2 separate regions of the Homo sapiens genome follow, and region 2 is linked to region 1. The links come from fine-mapping of genetic effects on gene expression. A gene starts in region 1. The other region holds a variant in brackets. All regions are shown on one strand. Distances are between the middles of the regions. Region 1 holds the start of KLHL9 (kelch like family member 9). Region 2 overlaps LOC107987053 (a long non-coding RNA gene).

What was found.
Region 2: its variant is fine-mapped to the expression of KLHL9 in cerebellar hemisphere (GTEx, PIP 0.96).

What each region holds. Positions count from the first base shown.
Region 1 is chr9:21,332,511-21,337,902 of GRCh38, reverse strand. KLHL9 (kelch like family member 9) reads left to right here and starts at 2,499. Exons shown (of 1, transcript NM_018847.4): 1 at 2,499-5,392. The coding sequence starts at 3,044. The coding sequence ends at 4,897. LOC107987053 (a long non-coding RNA gene) reads right to left here. Exons shown (of 3, transcript XR_001746634.2): 3 at 602-1,282. RefSeq lists a silencer at 2,310-2,479 and enhancers at 2,520-2,829, 3,020-3,069.
Region 2 is chr9:21,273,212-21,278,603 of GRCh38, reverse strand. All of the region lies in intron 2 of LOC107987053 (a long non-coding RNA gene), which reads right to left. It also overlaps the pseudogene IFNA22P. Among named protein-coding and RNA genes, the nearest start is that of IFNA5, 29 kb to the left of the region's middle. The variant T/C (reference allele first, on the strand shown) is at 2,700.

The DNA of each region.
Region 1 (5,392 bases):
TGAACTTCACTTGAGGTTGCAAAACCAACCTTGGCATTGATTTATTGAGTAAGGCCAGGTATGGTGGCTCATGCCAGTAATCCCAGCAGTGTGGGAGGCTGAGGTGGGAGGATTGTTGAGGCTAGGAGTTTGAGGCTGTAGTGAGCTATGAACCTGCCACTGCACTCCAGCTTAGTGACAGAGCAAGACCTTGTGTTTGTTTTTTTTAAATAAACAAATGCAAAATGATCTGAAAGTAAAACTCGAAATAATAAAGAGAATAATTTTCAAAATATAAAGTGAGGGGCCAGGCATGGTGGCTCACGCCTGTAATCCCAGCACTTTGGGAGGCTGAGGCAGGCGGATCACAAGGTCAGGAGTTTGAGAGCAGACTGGCCAGCATGGTGAAACTCTATCTCTACTAAAAATACAAAAAATTAGCTGGGCATGGTGGCGCGCACCTGTAGTCCCAGCTACTCGGGACGCTAAGGCAGGAGAATTGCTTGACCCTGGGAGGCGGAGGTTGCAGTGAGCCGAGATCGCACCACTGTACTCCAGCCTGGGTGACAGAGCGAGACTCCGTCAAAACAAAACAAAACAAAACAAACAAACAAAATATACATAAAGTGAACACTTTTTAATGTAATTAGCACAGTGTTAAAAGTGAACATTTCATACAAGCAAAAATACTGAATACAATAAATGTAGTAGAATCAATAATTAAGTACATGGGTAAATTAATAATATCATCCATGGTGAGCTAATGCCCCTAAGAACTGGATGCTTTATCATACAGTTGCTTGACATTACCAACAAGTATTGTGACAAATTTGATTCAATCATTTCATTATGCAGGCAGAAAAGATAGTCTTTTAAAATAACTAAACATATGGGAATATAATGAAGAGTGTCTATAGTAATCATTTCATGAAGACACAAGTCTGTTCCTAAGCTATTAATCTTACTTGCAAGTTTGATGAAAAAAAGAAGGATCTCATGATTTCTTGCTCCAACTTCCCATGTACAGAGGCTCTCTTCTTTCTTTTCCAGATAGAGACTGATTCCTTGGAAGTAGCTCTTCACAGCATTAGGGAGTTGTCATGGCCTGAGAGAGCCCTTCCACCCCTAACTCATTCAACAAGCAGGGCTCCAGGACTTCCCAATGCTGATAAAAATTCAGTGAATAATTTCTCCAGGCCAGTTTCATTCCAACCAACCTCTTGTGTTGAATAAGGTGACAATCTGCTGGAGCACCTTGTGGAGGACAGTGGTAGTCTAAGCCTTCTGAATTTTGCTGCCATCCCTTGGAAACAATAGAAAACATTCAAAACAGATGAACTGCCCATCAACAGGGCACTGGTTAAATAACTTATGATGTAACAACTCAGAAGGCAACAACAGAATTGTTTAAAAATATAAATAAGCCCTCTACACTAATTCAGGAAGATCTTGAAGTGAAAAAAAAAGATGCAGAACAGTGTACATGGTATGCTATCTTTTACATAAAAACGAGGCGAGTGTAAGAAAAACATGACTACATTCTTACTTTGCATATGCATAAAGAACTAGAAGGATTTAAAAGACAGAAACTTCAAAATTTGGAAAATGGAAGAAATTGTGTCAAAGTATACATTTATTTGTATGTCAAAATTTAAATTTACCACTAATTAAAGAAATGCAAGTTAATAAAATACTCACAAAGGGAAAAGTCAGAAGAAGGGAAAGACACAAACATTGTTGGTGATAATATTTTGGAAATATTGTCTTGGATCAGTATTTTACTAAATATTATCCATAACAGGGCTAAAATTTTGCTACCAGATTGTATAAGTTTACTACCGAGTCTATAAAACAATGGAGGATAAGAAGGTACACATTCAGGAACAAACCAATGGGCAAAGGAAACTATAGTATGTATAGTTATTGGAAAATTATGTAGCCATTTTTAAAATTGTGGAAAACAAAGGCATTTCAAGCCAAAAATTTAGAATATATCATTTACATAATAAAGTAACAATCTAGTAAAGACAAATATTTTGCGTTTGAAATTGTAACAAATTTGAAAATATGAACCAAAATTGTAACTGAAGTATCTACTACATAATGTGGGATAACAATTATTGTTTTGTAGAGGAAAAAAAAAATTAAGCATCCAGGTTTCCTCTCAATTTATACAAATGCCGCATTTCACTGTTATTCAAAAAAACAGAAGCTAGGAAGCGTAAAGCTTTGAAAAATTATGCATTTGGGGAACGTAAGAGCTCAGATATGCGAAAAACTTATATCAAACGTGCAGCATAACACACTTGCTTGCACACATTCTGTCCTATTTGGTCCCACATACAAGGCAGCTCTAAGAGGCCGGGCTGGCGCCCACCCCACACAGCTCCGCTTCCCCAACCCTCGCCCTCCCGCCTCCCGGGTACTTCCTCCCCCTTCCCCACCCCCACCCTCCCGCTGACTGACGAGGTCTGGAGGCCGCGCAGCCGCAGTAGCCGCTAAGGCCGCTCCCACCCCGTGGTATCCTGGGACTAGGCTTTTCCGGAAGGAGCGGCTCGGTGTTGGGGCTAGGCCGGTATTCTAGGCCCAAGCCCAGGCCCAGGCCTGTGTTCCCGGCCCTTGCTCAAAGACAGGCCGGTGGCCGCTGCGACACTCTAGGTACAGCGGAGGGCGCAGCGGGCCGTTCGCTGAGGTGTCCGGACCCGCCGCCGAGCGGGCCGTGGAGCCACAGTACGTGGCGGCGCCTCTTCCTTGCCCGAAGCGGAACTGCTGAAGGAGCGGCAGCGCAGGCCGGACGAGGTGAACCAGGTCATTTAACCGCCTTCAGGTGATGAATCATCTGTCTAATAATCAGATTTGAGGTCCACAGCCCTTTGTGGTCCTGCTACAGGGTGATTTTCAGTGGATGACTGACTGGCGTGGCCCGAGGGGTGCCGCAGTGACTGCCTTCCCTTGATAAGGAAACGAGCTTTCTGTTCTTTCTGGACACCTCGTTACCTGTAAAACATTCCGGTTATAACTTCTTTATCCGGCTTGCATCTCTGTGCAAGAGGAAAGCTTTCACATGAAAGTGTCCCTTGGTAACGGCGAAATGGGCGTCTCTGCCCATTTGCAGCCTTGTAAGGCAGGAACCACACGCTTTTTTACCAGCAATACTCACAGTTCGGTGGTATTGCAAGGCTTTGATCAGCTTAGAATAGAAGGATTGCTTTGTGATGTGACCCTGGTACCAGGTGATGGAGATGAAATCTTCCCTGTTCACAGAGCTATGATGGCGTCTGCTAGTGATTATTTCAAAGCCATGTTCACAGGTGGAATGAAAGAACAAGATTTGATGTGCATTAAGCTTCATGGGGTGAACAAGGTTGGTCTGAAGAAAATCATTGATTTTATTTATACTGCAAAACTTTCTCTTAATATGGACAATCTTCAGGACACACTTGAAGCTGCTAGCTTTTTACAAATATTACCCGTTTTGGATTTCTGTAAAGTATTTCTTATATCAGGAGTCTCTTTGGATAACTGTGTTGAGGTTGGACGAATTGCTAACACCTACAATCTTATAGAAGTGGATAAATATGTTAATAATTTCATCCTGAAGAACTTTCCTGCTTTATTGAGTACTGGGGAGTTTCTAAAACTCCCTTTTGAACGACTTGCATTTGTGCTTTCCAGTAATAGTCTTAAGCACTGTACCGAACTTGAACTCTTTAAGGCAGCCTGTCGCTGGCTAAGGTTGGAAGACCCTCGGATGGATTATGCTGCAAAGTTAATGAAGAATATTCGATTTCCACTGATGACACCACAGGATCTCATCAATTACGTGCAGACAGTAGATTTCATGAGAACAGACAATACCTGCGTGAATTTGCTTTTGGAAGCTAGCAATTACCAAATGATGCCATATATGCAGCCAGTGATGCAGTCAGATAGAACTGCCATTCGATCTGACTCCACTCACTTGGTTACATTAGGAGGAGTTTTGAGGCAGCAGCTGGTTGTCAGTAAAGAATTACGGATGTATGATGAAAGGGCACAAGAATGGAGATCTTTAGCCCCAATGGATGCTCCCCGTTACCAGCATGGTATTGCTGTCATTGGAAACTTTCTTTATGTAGTTGGTGGTCAGAGTAATTATGATACAAAAGGAAAAACTGCTGTTGATACAGTTTTCAGATTTGATCCTCGGTATAATAAATGGATGCAGGTTGCATCATTAAATGAAAAGCGCACATTCTTTCACTTGAGTGCCCTCAAAGGACATTTGTATGCAGTTGGTGGGCGCAGTGCAGCTGGTGAACTGGCCACAGTAGAATGTTACAACCCAAGAATGAATGAGTGGAGCTATGTTGCAAAAATGAGTGAACCCCACTATGGTCATGCTGGAACAGTATATGGAGGCTTAATGTATATTTCAGGAGGAATTACCCATGACACTTTCCAAAATGAGCTCATGTGTTTTGACCCAGATACAGATAAATGGATGCAAAAGGCTCCAATGACTACAGTCAGAGGTCTGCATTGCATGTGTACAGTTGGAGATAAGCTCTATGTCATTGGTGGCAATCACTTCAGAGGAACAAGTGATTATGATGATGTTCTAAGCTGTGAATACTATTCACCAACCCTTGACCAGTGGACCCCAATTGCCGCCATGTTAAGAGGCCAAAGTGATGTTGGAGTTGCCGTCTTTGAAAATAAAATCTATGTTGTTGGTGGATATTCTTGGAATAATCGTTGTATGGTAGAAATTGTCCAGAAATATGACCCAGAAAAAGATGAGTGGCATAAAGTTTTTGATCTTCCAGAGTCACTTGGTGGCATTCGAGCCTGTACACTCACAGTTTTTCCACCTGAAGAAAACCCTGGGTCACCTTCTAGAGAATCACCTCTTTCAGCACCTTCAGATCATTCTTAGGTCTAAGGTGTAACACCTTTGCAGTACGTCATGGGTGATCTAATACTTCCCCTTCAGTTGTATCTTCTTACAGTGATTGGTACAGTTATTAGATATAAAGGTAACTGATGTTATTCGTCTTGTATGGCTTTTAGTATGTTTATCAAGTGGCTAACAAATGCATTCTGAAAATGTATTTAACATAGCTGTTTTAACAAATGAAAAAAAGACGTAGAAAAATGTTTAGATGTCTTTTTGTGATGTTATATAAAATTGTAGATGACTGTGGTAAATGTGTAATTATGTCCATTATGCTTCAAAGTTGAGTTTTCATCTTTGACTCCAAAATGTCAGAGGGAGGCCGCTCTAAACTAAAAATAACGAAAGGTTGCCAAGTATTAATACTAGTTACCTCCCTCTTTTCGTAGTTTTTGTCATGTCTGTCAACTTACTCGATTGTGTGGTTGCATTCAGAATATTTGAAGTTTCTTACGTAGACAGAAATAATAAAAATAT
Region 2 (5,392 bases), 59 kb after region 1:
GTTTACTGATGGCTATGATGGTGCTCAGCTGCAAGTCCATCTGCCTCTGGGCTGTGATCTGCCTCAGGCCCACAGCGTGGGTAACAGGAGGGCCTTCATACTCCTGACACAAATGAGGAGAATCTCTCCTTTTTCTTACTTGAAGGACAGACATGACTTTGATTTTCCATCATCAGGTGTTTCATGGCAACCACTTCCAGAAGGTTCAAGCTATCTTCCTTTTCCATGAGATGATGCAGCAGACCTTCAACCTCTTCAGCACAAAGGACTCATCTGATACTTGGGATGCGACCCTTTTAGACAAATTCTACACTGAACTTTACCAGCAGCTGAATGACCTGGAAGCCTGTGTGATGTAGAAGGTTGGAGTGGAAGAGACTCCCCTGAGGAATGTGGACTCCATCCTGGCTGTGAGAAAATACTTTCAAAGAATCACTCTTTATCTGACAAAGAAGAAGTATAGCCCTTGTTCCTGGGAGGCTGTCAGAGCAGAAATCATGAGATCCTTCTCTTTATGAACGAACTTGCAGGAAAGATTAAGGAGGAAGGAATGAAAACTGGTTCAACATGGAAATGAGAAACATTTCCATGATTAATACATCATCTCACACGTTCATGAATTCTGCCATTTCTCATTTTTGCTATATCCATGACATGAGTTGAATCAAAATTTTAAAATGTTTTCAGGAATGTTAAGCAGCATCATGTTCAGCTGTACAGGCACTAGTTCCTTACGGATGATCATGCTGATGGATCTGTTTATCTATTTGTCTAAATAATTATTTAACTATTTATACTATTTAAAATCTTCTTTTCATGTATCATGTATTTTTACTTTGTGGTTAATATAACAATACATGTTCTTTATATTTAGTCAATATATTACTTTGCTTTTTTCATTAAATTTTTACTATGGAAAACTCCTTGTATTTGTTTATTCTTTAAAATGAAACTCCAAGCCTGATTATTTAACCTGATTAAAAAATAGATTATACGATTCAGTTACCTATTATTGGTTATAAGTCAAAATAGATTTTTCTATACCAGATTGTATGTTGTATGTTGCCTTCAGGATATAAAATTGAAAAAACAAATACATTTCCTGTTCTCATGTACCTTTGATTTTTGTGAGGAAAGAAACTTATAAACAATAATCGTTCTCAATTGATATCAGTTATGTTAAATGCTATAATGTGAGATAGGAAAAAAAAAACAATGAATTTCTCATAGAAGAGGATGGATTTAGGCATTCCAGAAATAAAAATAAAAGAAGCAATATCCTCAATAAATTGACTTCTAAACATACAATTGCAAATGTGTATTTCCAGTCAGATATATGAATTTGCAATTTTCAAGAAATACAATGCCTGAAGGTTCATAACTGGCAATGGAAAGCCCAAAAATAGAGGCAGTCATGTGGAGAGGAAAAAGAAAAGTAAAGGAAAAAAGAACCTAAAATTGATTCTGAGGACCTTCCACCTTTAAAGAGAGGGGATATAAGAGACACAAAGGAAGCAAGGGTGGAAAACTGTACATTAGTGAAGGAAAGACTTAATGGTGATAAATGTGTGTCTTGAAAATAAATGTATTTAGAAGAAGAATCAATAGACTTGGGGGAAATATGGATTAAAACTGTCCACTACATCAGAAAAATAAATGGCAGTGGAGATCTTAGTGAGAGCTGCATTGGTAGAATTAATCACTATAAACCGTATTGCAGTAGGTGGAAGCATGAATCAAAGAAGGGAAATCTGTGACAAAATAGATAAGAAATAGTTGTGAGAGGTTTCCCTTTAAGATAAAGGAAAGAAATAAGGTTAGACATGAAAAAAAAAGTGGATCACATTTCATTTTACCTGCATGGTTTATCCGTTTGAAAATATATATGTCTGCAGATTGATTTCATGCATTGAAAAGCTGTTAATATACTTAATATTTTATAATATCAAATTATAACATATAAAGTTGCAATAATTATAATTTTGATTAGTACTATGTTAATTGTCAGTAAAACCTGACAAACTTCCTTCATAAAATAAAATGGAAAACTGGATGAAAGAATCGCTTTCTCAACGCTTTAAGAAAACAAAAAAAGATTGGTCACAAGTATCAATAGCCAAATCAATCAAGTGGAAGAAACGATATCAGAGATTGAAGATCAACTTAATGAAATAAAGTGTGAAGGCAAGATTAGAGAAAAAAGAATGAAAAGAAATGAACAGACTCTAAGAAATATGGGACTACGTGAAAAGACCAAACGTACGTTTGATTCGTGTACCTAAAAGTGAAGGGGAGAATGGAACCAAGTTGGGAAACACTCTTCAGGATATTACCCAGGAGAACTTCCCCAACCTGGCAAGACAGGTCAACATTCAAATTCAGGAAACACAGAGAACACCACAAAGGTACTCCTTGAGAAAAGCAAACTCAATACACATAATCGTCAGATTCACCAAGGCTGAAATGAAGGAAAAAATGTTGAGGGCAGCCAGAGAGAAAGGTCGGATTACCCAAAAAGAGAAGCCCATCAGATCAACAGTGCATCTCTCTGCAGAAACTCTACAAGCCAGTAAAGAGTGGGGCCCAATATTCAACATTCTTAAAAGAATTTTCAACCCAGAATTTCATATTCAGTCAATCTAAGCTTCATAAGCAAAGGAGAAATAAAATTCATTACAGAAAAGCAAATGCTGAGAGAT[T/C]TTGTCACCACTAGGCCTGCCCTACAAGAGCTCCTGAAGGAAGCACTAAATATGAAAAGGAAAAACCAGTACCAGTCACTACAAAAACATATCAAATTGTGAAGACCATTGAAACTATGAAGAAACTGCATCAACTAATGGGCAAAATAACCAGCTAGCATCATTATGACAGGATCAAATGCACACATAACAATATTAACCTTAAATGTAAATGGGAAAAATGCCCCAATTAAAAGACACAGACTGGCAAATTGGATAGAGTCAAGACCCATCGGTGTGCTGTATTCAGGAGACCCATCTCACATGCAAAGACACATAAACTCAAAATAAAGGGATGGAGGAATATTTACCAAGCAAATGGAAAGCAAAAAAAAAAAAAAAAAAAAAAAAAAAGCTGGGGTTGCAATTCTGGTCTCTGATAAAACAGACTTTAAACCAACAAAGATCAAAAAGAAAAAGAAGACAAAGAAGGGCTTTACATAATGTTAAAGGGATCAATGCAACAAGAAGAGCTAACTATTCTAACTATATATGCACCCAATACTGGAGCACCCAGATTCATAAAGCAAGTTCTTAGAGACCTACAAAGAGGTTTAGACTCCCACACAATAATAGTGGGAGAATTTAACACCCCACTGTCAATATTAGACAGATCAACAAGACAGAAAATTAACAAGGATATTCAGGACTTGAACTCAGCTCTGGACCAAGCAGACCTAATAGACATCTGCAGAACTTTCCACCCCAAATTAACAGAATACACATTCTTCTCAGCATCACGTCACACTTATTCTAAAATTGACCACATAATTGGAAATAAAACACTCCTCAGTAAACGCAAAAGAATGGAAATCAAAACAAACAGTCTCTCAGACCACAATGCAATCAAGTTAGAACTCGGGATTAAGAAACTCACTCAAAACCCCACAACTACATGGAAACTGAACAACCTGCTCCTGAATGGCTACTGGATAAATAATGAAATTAAGGCAGAAGTACATAAGTTCTTTGAAACCAATTAGAACAAAGACACAGTGTACCAGAATCTCTGAAACACGGCTAAAACAGTGTTTAGAGGAAAATTTATAGCACTAAATGCCCACAGGAGAAAGCAGGAAGGATCTAAAATCGACACCCTAACATCACAATTAAAAGAACTAGAGAAACAGGAGCAAACAAATTCAAATGCTAGCAGAAAACAACAAATAACTAAGATCAGAGTGTAACTGAAGGAGATAGAGACACGAAAAACCCTTCAAAGAATCAGTAAATCCAGGAGCTGGTTTTTTGGACAGATTAACAAAATAGATAGACCGCTGGCCAGACTAACAAAGAAGAAAAGAGAGAAGAATCAAATAGACACAATAAAAAATGATAAAGAGGATATCATCACTGATCCCACAGAAATACAAACTACCATCAGAGAATACTATAAACACCTCTGTGCAAATAAACTAGAAAATCTAGAAGAAATGGATAAATTCCTGGACACACACACCCTCCCAAGACTAAACTAGGAAGAAGTTGAATCCCATTTCAGCTTTCTACATATGGCTAGCCAGTTTTCCTAGCACCATTTATTAAACAGGGAATCCTTTCTCCATTTCTTGTTTTCGTCAGGTTTGTCAAAGATCAGATGGTTGTAGATGTGTGGTATTATTTCTGAGGGCTCTGTTCTGTTCCATTGGTCTATATCTCTATTTTGGTACCAGTACCATGCTGTTTTGGTTACTGTAGCCTTGAAGTATAGTTTGAAGTCAGGTAGCGTGATGCCTCCAGCTTTGTTCTTTTGACTTAGGATTGGCTTGGCAATGCGGGCTCTTTTCTGGTTCCATATGAACTTTAAAGTAGTTTTTTCCAATTATGTGAAGAAAGTCATCAGTAGCTTGATGGGGATGGCATTGAATCTATAAATTACCTTGGGCAGTATGGCCATTTTCACGATATTGATTCTTCCTACCCATGAGCATGGAATGTTCTTCCATTTGTTTGTATCCTCTTTTATTTCATTAAGCAGTGGTTTGCAGTTCTCCTTGAAGAGGTGCTTCACATCCCTTGTAAGTTGGATTCCTAGGTATTTTATTCTCTTTGAAGCAATTGTGAATGGGAGTTCACTCATGATTTGGCTCTCTGTCTGTTACTGGTGTACAGGAATGCTTGTGATTTTTGCACATTGATTTTGTATCCTGAGACTGCTTAAGTTGCTTATCAGCTTAAGGAGATTTTGGGCTGAAGTGTTTGGGTTTTCTAAATATGCAATCATGTCTTCTGCAAACAGAGACGATTTGACTTCCTCTTTTCCTAATTGAATACCCTTTATTTCTTTCTCCTGCCTGATTTCCCTGGCCAGAACTTCCAACATTATGTTGAATAGGAGTGGTAAGAGAGGGCAGAACAAAAATTAATTCAAGATGAATTAAAGACTTAAATGTTAGACCTAAAACCATAAAAACCCCAGAAGAAAACCTAGGCAATACCATACAGGACATAGGCATGGGCAAGGACTTCATGACTACAACACCAAAAGCAATGGCAACAAAAGTCAAAATTGACAAATGGGATCTAATTAAACTAAAGAGCTTCTGCACAGCAAAAGAAACTACCATCAGATTGAACAGGCAACCTACAGAATGGGAGAAAATTTTTGCAATCTACCCATCTGACAAAGGGCTAATATCAAGAATCTACAAAGA